2 separate regions of the Homo sapiens genome follow, and region 1 is linked to region 2. Evidence: fine-mapped expression QTL. A gene starts in region 2. The other region holds a variant in brackets. All regions are shown on one strand. Distances are between the middles of the regions. Region 1 overlaps LINC00639 (long intergenic non-protein coding RNA 639). Region 2 holds the start of LINC00639 (long intergenic non-protein coding RNA 639).

Region 1 (4,403 bases), 58 kb before region 2:
GGTATTTGGTTTTCTGTTCCTGTGTTAGTTTGCTAAGCATGATATATTTTAGCAATAACAAACCACCCCAGTCAAGAAATAGAATATTGTCAGCACCCCAGAAGCCACAACATGCCCCATTCTGATAAAAGTTCCACTCCCATCCCCTCTAGAGTTAAGCATTATCCTACTTTTGGCTGTCAATAGGTACCAGTATATTATCAAATTAATAGATGGAATTAGAACTACCCTTCTTTGACATCTAAGTGTCATCCATCCCTATAAAGGATATGATCTCATTCTTTTTCATGGCTGCATAGTATTCCATGGTGTATATGTGTCACATTTTCTTTACTCAGTCTACCATTGATGGGCATTTGGGTTGTTTCCAAGTCTTTGCTCTTGTAAATAGTGCTGCAATAAATATGTGCAAGAGCACATATTCTTTCATTGGCCATTGTTACTCTAGTATTTGCCAACCTGATAGATGGTAAGTGGTATCTCATGGTTGCTTTATTTTTTTTTTCAACTATTATTTTAATTTCAGGGGGTACATGTGCAGGTTTGTTACCTGGGTATAGTGTGTGATGCTGAAGTTTGGGCTATAAATGATTCCATCACCTAGGTACTGAGTATAGTACCCAATAGTTAGCTTTTCAACCCTTGGCTCCCCCTCTCTTCTCATTCTAATAGTCCACAGTTTCTATTGTTCTCAACTTTATGTCCATGAGCACTCAATGTTTAGCTCTCACTTGTAAGTGAGGACATGAGGTTTTTTATTTTCTGTTCCTGTGTTAATAATTTGCTTAAGATAATGGCCTCCAGCTGCATTCATGTTACTGCAAAGGACATGATTTCATTCTTCTTATGACTGCATAGTATTCCATGGCATATATGTAACACATTTTCTTTATCCAATCTGTTATTAATGGGCACCTAGGTTGATTCTGTGTCTTTGCTATTGTGACTAGTGCTGCAATGAATACACAAGTATATGTGTCTTTTTGGTAGAAAAATGTGTGTTTTCAGGAACAGAAAGCCAAACACGGCATGTTCTCATTCATAAGTGGGAGTTGAACAATGAGAACACATGGGCACAGGGAGGGGAATATCACACACCGTGGGGGTTGGGGGGCTAGGGGAGGGATAGCATTAGGAGAAATACCTAATGTAGATGACGGGTTGATGCGTGCAGCAAACCACGATGGCACGTGTATACCTATGTAGCAAACCTGCATGTTCTGCACATGTATCCCAGAACTTAAAGTATAATTAAAAAAAAACAAACAAAGGCGGCCGGGCACAGTGGCTCACGCCTGTAATCCCAGCACTTTGGGAGGCCAAGGTGGGTGGATCACAAGGTCAGGAGATTGAGACCATCCTGGCTAACACCGTGAAACCCCGTCTCCACTAAAAATACAAAAAATTAGCCGGGCGTGGTGGCAGGCGCCTGTAGTCCCAGCTACTTGGGAGGCTGAGACAGGAGAATCACTTGAACCCGGGAGACGGAGCTTGCAGTGAGCCGAGATCATGCCACTGCACTCCAGCTTGGGTGACAGAGTGGGATTCTGACTCAAAAAAAAAAAAAAAAAAAGGCAAAACAAAAAAAGAAAAATGTGTGTTTTCTTTTGGATGTATACCCAGTAATGGGATTGCTCAGTCAAATGGTAGTTCTCTTTTAAGTTCTTTGAGAAATCTCCAAACTGCTTTCCACGGTGGCCAAATTAATTTACATTCCCACCAATAGTGTATAAATGTTGCCTTTTCTCCAGATCCTCGCCAGCATCTTGTTTTCTACTTTTTATTAATAGCCATTCTGACTGGTGTGAGATGGTTCTCATGGTGGTTCTGATTTGCATTTCTCTGATAATTAATGATGACAAGCATTTCTTCATATGTTTCATATGTTGGCCACTT[G/A]TATGTCCTCTTTTGAGAAGTGTCTGTTGATGTCTTTTGCCCATTTTTAATGGGGTTATTTGCTTTTGCTTGCTCAATTGTTTAAATTCCTTATAGATTCTGGATATTAGATCTTTGTTGGATGCACAGTTTGCGAATATTTTCTCCTGTTGTCTGTTTACTCTGTTGACAGTTTATTTTGCTGTGCAGAAGTTCTTTAGTTTAATTCGGTCTCACTTATCAATTTTCATTTTTGTTGCAGTTGCTCAAGGACTTCTTCATAAATTCTTTCCCAACACCAATGTCCAGAATGGTGTCTCCTAGGTTTTCTTCTAGAATTCTTAGAGTTTGAAGTCTTACATTTAAATATTTAATCCATCTCGAGTTAATTTTTGTTTATGGTGAAATGTAGGGGTCCAGTTTCATTTTTCTGCATATCGGTAGCCAGTTATCCCAGCACCACTTATTGAATAGGGAGTCCTTTTTCCATTGTTTATTTTTGTTCACTTTGTCAAAGATGACATGGCTATAACTGCACAGCTTTATTTCTGAGTTCTCTATTTTGTTCCATTAGTCTATGTGTCTATTTTTGTACCAGTATCATGCAGTTTTGGTAGCTGTAGCCTTATAGCATAATTTGAAGTCAGGTAATATGATGCCTCCAGCTTTGTTCTTTTTGCTTAGGCTTGCTTTTGCTATTTGGACTCTTTCTTGGTTCCCTATGAATTTTACAATAGTTTTTTCCTAGTTCTGTGAAAAATGGCATTGGTAGTTTTATAGAAAGAGCATTGAATCTGTAGATTGCTTTAGGCAGTATGGCATTTTAACAATATTGATTCTTCCAATCCATAAGCATAGAATGTTTTTTCATTTGTTTGTGTTATCTATGATGTCTTTTAGCAGTGCTTTGTCGTATTCTTTGTAGAGATCTTTCATCCCCTTTATTAGATGTATTCCTAGGTATTTTTTTCTGTGTATGGCTATTGTTAATAAGATTGCATTCTTGATTTGGTTCTCAGCTTGAACATTATTGATTTTTAGAAATACTGCTAATTTTTGTACATTGACTTTGTATCCTGAAACTTTACTGAAGTTGTTTATTAGTTCCAGGAGCCTTTTGGTGGAGACTACGGTTTTCTAGGTATAGTCTACGAAAAATTGTTTGACTTTTTCTTTTCCTGCTTGGGTGCGTTTTCTTTCTTTCTCGTCTGATTGCTCTGGCTAGCACATCCAGTACTATGTTGAATCGGAGTGACGAAAGTGGGCATCCTTGCCTTGTTCTAGTCCTCAAAGGGAATGCTTCCAGGTTTTGCCCATTCAGTATGATGTTGGCTGTGGATTTATCACAGATGGATCTTGTCATTTTGAGGTATGTTCCTTCACCATCTAATTTCTTGAGGGTTTTTTTTTAATGAAGAGATATTGGATTTTATCAAAAGCTTTTCCATGTCTATTCAGAGGATCATATGGTTTGTGTTTTTAATTCCATTTATGTGATTCATCACATTTATTGATTTGCATATGTTGAACCGACTTTGCATCATAAGAAAGAAGCCAGCTTAATCATCGTGAATTAACTTTTTTGACATGCTGTTGAATTCAGTTCGCTAGTATTTTGTTGAGGATTTTTGTGTCCATGTTTATCAGGAATATTGGCCTTTAGTTTTCTTTCTTCATTGTGTCTTTGCCAGATTTCATATTAGGGTGATGATGCTGGCTCCACAGAATGAGTTAGGAAGGAATCCCTCCTTCTTGATTTTTTTGGTATAGTTTCATTAGGATTAGAACTAATTATTTCAATATGTGATAGAATTCAGCTATGAATCTATTTGGTCCAGGGCCTTTTCGATTTGGTAGTTTTTTTTATTACCAATTCAATTTCAGAATACAATATTGGTCTGTTCAGTATTTCAATTTCTTCTTGATTCAATCTTAGGAGATTGTGTGTTTCCAGGAATTTATTTGTGTACTTCCTCTAGATTTCCTAGTTTGTGTGAATAGAGGTGTTCATAATAGTGTCTGAGGATCTTTTGTATTTCCATGGGATCAGTTGTAATGTCACCTTTGTTGCTTCTGGTTGTGTTTATTTGAATCTTCTCTTTCTCTCTTTTTTTTTTTCTTTCTTGTTAATCCAGCTAGCGCTCTATCCTTTTGGTTTTATTGATTTTTTAATGGGTTTTGGGTTCTCAATTTCATTCAGTTCCTCTCTGATTTTAGTTATTTATTTTCTTCTGCTAGCTTTGAGGTTAGTTTGTTCTTGTTTTCCTAGTTCCTGTAGATGTGGTATTAGATCATTAATTTGAGGTCTTCCTAACTTCTTGAGTTAGGTATTCAGCACTATTAAAAAAATTTTTTTTAATTATTTGAAATAAATAAAAACAAAGACACAACATATCTCTTCTGCCTATTTAAGTATTGTTGGGAAGTCCTATTAGCCTGATGGGGTTCATTTTGTATGTAATTTGATCTTTTTCTCAGCTGCCTTTAAGATTTTTTCATTAAAATTGACTTTGGACTGTTTGGTGACT
Region 2 (4,403 bases):
TAAAAATACAAAAATAGCCAGGTGTAGTGGTGGGCATCTGTAATCCCAGCTGCTTGGGAGGCTGAGGCAGACAGAACTGCTTGAACCCAGGAGGAGGATGTTGCAGTGAGCTGAGATTAAGCCATTGTACTTTAAGCTGCATGACAGAGCAAGACTCCATCTCAAAAAAAAGAAAAGAAAGAAAGAAATTAATTCACTGAAAACCACACAGCTACATGGAAATTGAACAACCTGCTCCTGAAGGACTTCTGGGTAAACAATGAAATGAAGGCAGAAATCAAGAAGTTCTTTGAAACTAACAAGAACAAAGATACAATGTACCAGAATATCTGGGACACAGCTAAGGCAGTATTAAGAGGGAAATTTATAGTGCTAAATGCCCACATCAAAAAGTTAGAAAGATCTCAAGTTAACAACCTAACATCACCACTAAAAGAACTAGAGAACCAAGGCCAAGCAAATCCCAAAGCCAGCAGAAGAGAAGCAATAACCAGAATCAGAGCTGAACTGAAGGAGATAGAGACATGAAAAACTATTCAAAAGATCAATGAATCCAGGAGCTAGTTTTTGGAAAAAATTAATAAAATAGATAGACCACTAGTTAAACTAATAAAGAAGAAAAGAGAGAAGATTCAAATAAACACAGTCAGAAATGACAAAGAGGATATTACCACTGAACTCACAGAAATACAAACAACCATCAGAGAATATTATGGACACCTCTATGCACATAAACTTGAAAATATAGAAGAAATGAATAAATTCATGGACACACACACCCTTCCTAGAAAAAAGGGATAAATTCCCGGACACACATACCCTCCCAAGACTGAACCAAGAAGAAATTGAATCCCTGAGTAGACCAATAACAAGTTCTGAAATTGAGGTGGTAATAAATAGCCTACCAATCAAAAAAAGCCCAGGTCCAGACAAGTTCACAGCTGAATTCTAGCAGATGTACAAAGAAGAGCTGATACAAAGGCTAGACACAGTGGCCCACACCTGTAATCCCAGCATTTTGGGAAACCAAGGTGGACAGATCACTTGAGCTCAGGAGTTTGTGACCATCCTGGGCAACATGGCAAAACCCCATCTCTACAAATAATACAAAAAATTAGTAGAGCATGGTTGTGTATGCCTATAGTCTCAACTACTTGGGGGGGCCAGGCAGGAGTTTGTGACCAGACTGGTTGACAAAGTGAGACACTGTCTCAAAAAAAAAAAAAAAGAAGAAGAAGAAGAAGAAAGAAAAAGAAGAGCTGGTACCATTTCCATACATCTTCTGAAGTCTAGGCAGGGGGTCTCAAACCTCAGTTCTTGACTTCTGGGCACCCACAGGCTCAAGACCACATGGAAGCTACCAAGGCTTGGTGCTTCCACCCTTTGAAGCAACAGCCCAAGCTGTACCATGGCCCCTTTTAGTCAGGGCTGGAGTGGCTGGGACACAGGGCACCAAGTCCCTAGACTGCACACAGCACAGGGACCATGGGGCTGGCCCACGAGAGCATTTTCTCCTAGGCCTCTGGGCCTGTAATGGGAGGGGCCGCCATGAAGACCTCTGATATGCCTTGGAGACATTTTTCCCATTGTCTTGGGGATTAACATTTGGCTCCTCATTACTTATGCAAATTTCTACAGCCAGCTTCAATTTCTCCTCAGGAAACCGGTTTTCTTTTTCTATCAAATTATCAGGTTGCAAATTTCCCGAATTTTTATGCTCTGCTTCCCTTATAAAACTGAATGCCTTTAACAGCACACAAGTCACCTCTTGAATGCTTTGCTGCTTAGAAATTTCTTCAGTCAGATACCCTAAATCATCTCTCTCAAGTTCAAAGTTCCACAGATTTCTTGGGCAGGGGCAAAATACCACCAGTCTCTTTGCCAAAACATAACAAGAGTCACCTTTGTTCCAGTTCCCAACAAGTTCCTCATCTCTATCTGAAACAGCCTCGGCCAAGACCTTATTGTCCATATTGCTATCAGGCTTTTGGTCAAAGCCATTCAACAAGTCTCTAAGAAGTTCCAAACCTTCCCACATTTTCCTGTCTTTTTCTGAGCCCTCCAAACCATTCCAGCCTCTGCCTGTTACCGAGTTCCAAAGTCACTTCCACATTTTCAGGTATCTTTTCAGCAGCACACCACTCTACTGCTACCAATTTACTCTATTAGTCCATTTTCTTGCTGCTGATAAAGACATACACAAGACTGGGCAATTTACAAAAGAAAGAGGTTTATTGGACTTACAGTTCCACATAGCTGGGGAGGCTTCACAATTATGGCAGAAGGCAAGGAGCAGCAAATCACATCTTACATGGATGGCAGCAGGCAAAAAAAAAAAAATGACCCTGTTCAGGAAAATTCCTGTTTTTAAAACTGTCAAATCTCGTAAGACCCATCACTATCATGAGAACAGTATGGGAAATACCCACCCCCATGATTTGATTATCTCCCACTGGGTCCCTCCCACAATACATGGGAATTATAGGAGCTATAAGATGAGATTTGGGTGGAGGCACAGAGACAAACCATATCACATGGAATCAACCTATATGTCCACCAACAGTAGACTGGATGAAGAAAATGTGATCAATATACACCATGGAATACTATGCAGTAATAAAAAAGAAAGAGATATGTCCTTTGCAAGAACACAGATGGAACTGGAGGCCACTATCCTTAGCAAACTAATACAGGAACAGAAAACCAAATACTGCCTGTTCTCATTTATAAGTGGGAGCTAAATGATGAGAACACATGGACACACAGAGAGGAACAACACACACTGGGGCCTTTCAGAGGCTGGAGGGTGGGAGAAGGAAGACAATCAGGAAAAATAACTAATAATTAAATAACTAATGGGTATTAGGCTTAAGATCTGGGTGACAAAATCTGTACAACAAACTCCCATGACACAAGTTTACCTATGTAACAAACCTGCATTTATACCCCTGGACTTAAAATAAAACTTTTAAAAAATAAACAAATGATAATAGCAGATTATAGCCCATTAAATAAACTAGGAATTCATGAGTTCAAATTACATAAACAAACAAATAATTATTCCTTACATAAGAATGCTAATTACTGTATGCAGAAGGAAAGGTAGAATTGGAAGGTCATTATTTGGCAACTATTATAGTAGTAGTTGATTGAAGAAGAAAGCATCAAATGATGCTGAATCTGAGTGAAGGTTTGATGACAACCAACATGGTCTCAAATTATCTCCCCACAAAGTGCTGTTAACTGCAAAGGGGAGATGAGTTACTTTGCAGTCATAAATGTTGTATCACTGGGCACAGTGGCTCATGCTTATAATCCTAGCATGTGGGAAGCTGAGGTAGGCTATTTTCTTTTAGTAATTTCATGGCTTGTGGTCTTAGATTTAAGTCTTTAATCAATTTTAATTTGACTTTTGTATATGGCAAGAGATAGGGGTCTAGTTTCATTCTTCTGCCTATGGATATCCAGTTTTCCAAGCCCCACTTATTGAAGAGACTGCCTTTTCTCCAACATATATTCTCGGTACCTTTGTTGAAAACAAGTTTACTGTAGATGTATGAGTTTGTTTCTGGGTTCTCTATTGTGTTTCATTAGTCTATGTGTCTGTTTTTATGCCAGTACTATGCTGTTTTGGTTACTGTAGCCCTGTAGTATAATGTAAATGACAAGTTAACCAGTGCAGCACACCAACATGGCACATGTATACATATGTAACAAACCTGCACATTGTGCACATGTACCCTAGAACTTAAAGTATAACAAAAAAAAAGAAAAGAAAAGAAAGGAACAGAGGAAAAGGAGGAAGGAAGGAAGGAAGAAAGGAAGGAAGGAAAAGAGGGAGGGAGGGAGGTTGTATTAAAATGAGAAAATTGATTAGTTCACAAATTATGCATTAAAAGGCCCACAGTTTACTAGATCTATAAATTCCTCAGAACCCCTAAATACATTGGCTTTTTAGAATAAGTGTTAAATACACACACACACACGAACACACACAACCCACAATACAACTGATGTGGCCTTGTGGAAGGAATACGTAAAGCTATTTGCATTATAGTGCTAATTTAGCTTTTCTTTACATTGAACCTTAATAACCAGAATCTGCTTCTTTGTAACTTCTGTCCATTTATCCAGTTTCCACCCAAGGAGAGAGAGCAAGTCTCATTGCTCAACTATTCTAAATCTGCCACCACGATCCCCTAAATCTTTTCCAGGCTGAACACTCCAGATTTCTTCTACTCTTCCTTAACTGATAGGACTTTAGTTCTCTTGGCTGCTTTTCTCTGAAGTATCCCATTTTGTCTGAGACAGTACTGTGACGGTACTATGATACCTCTGAAACAATAGTATGGTACCAGTGTCTGAGCAGAATGGACTGGCACTCACAAAACCAGATATTGTAT

What was found. PIP is the estimated chance that this variant, and not a neighbour inherited with it, causes the effect.
Region 1: its variant is the best candidate, but not a certain one, in a credible set for the expression of LINC00639 in whole blood (TOPMed, PIP 0.57).

What each region holds. Positions count from the first base shown.
Region 1 is chr14:38,856,737-38,861,139 of GRCh38, forward strand. All of the region lies in intron 2 of LINC00639 (long intergenic non-protein coding RNA 639), which reads right to left. Among named protein-coding and RNA genes, the nearest start is that of LINC00639, 58 kb to the right of the region's middle. The variant G/A (reference allele first, on the strand shown) is at 1,897.
Region 2 is chr14:38,914,538-38,918,940 of GRCh38, forward strand. LINC00639 (long intergenic non-protein coding RNA 639) reads right to left here and starts at 2,345. Exons shown (of 5, transcript NR_039982.1): 1 at 2,245-2,345. All of the region lies in intron 4 of LOC105370457 (a long non-coding RNA gene), which reads left to right.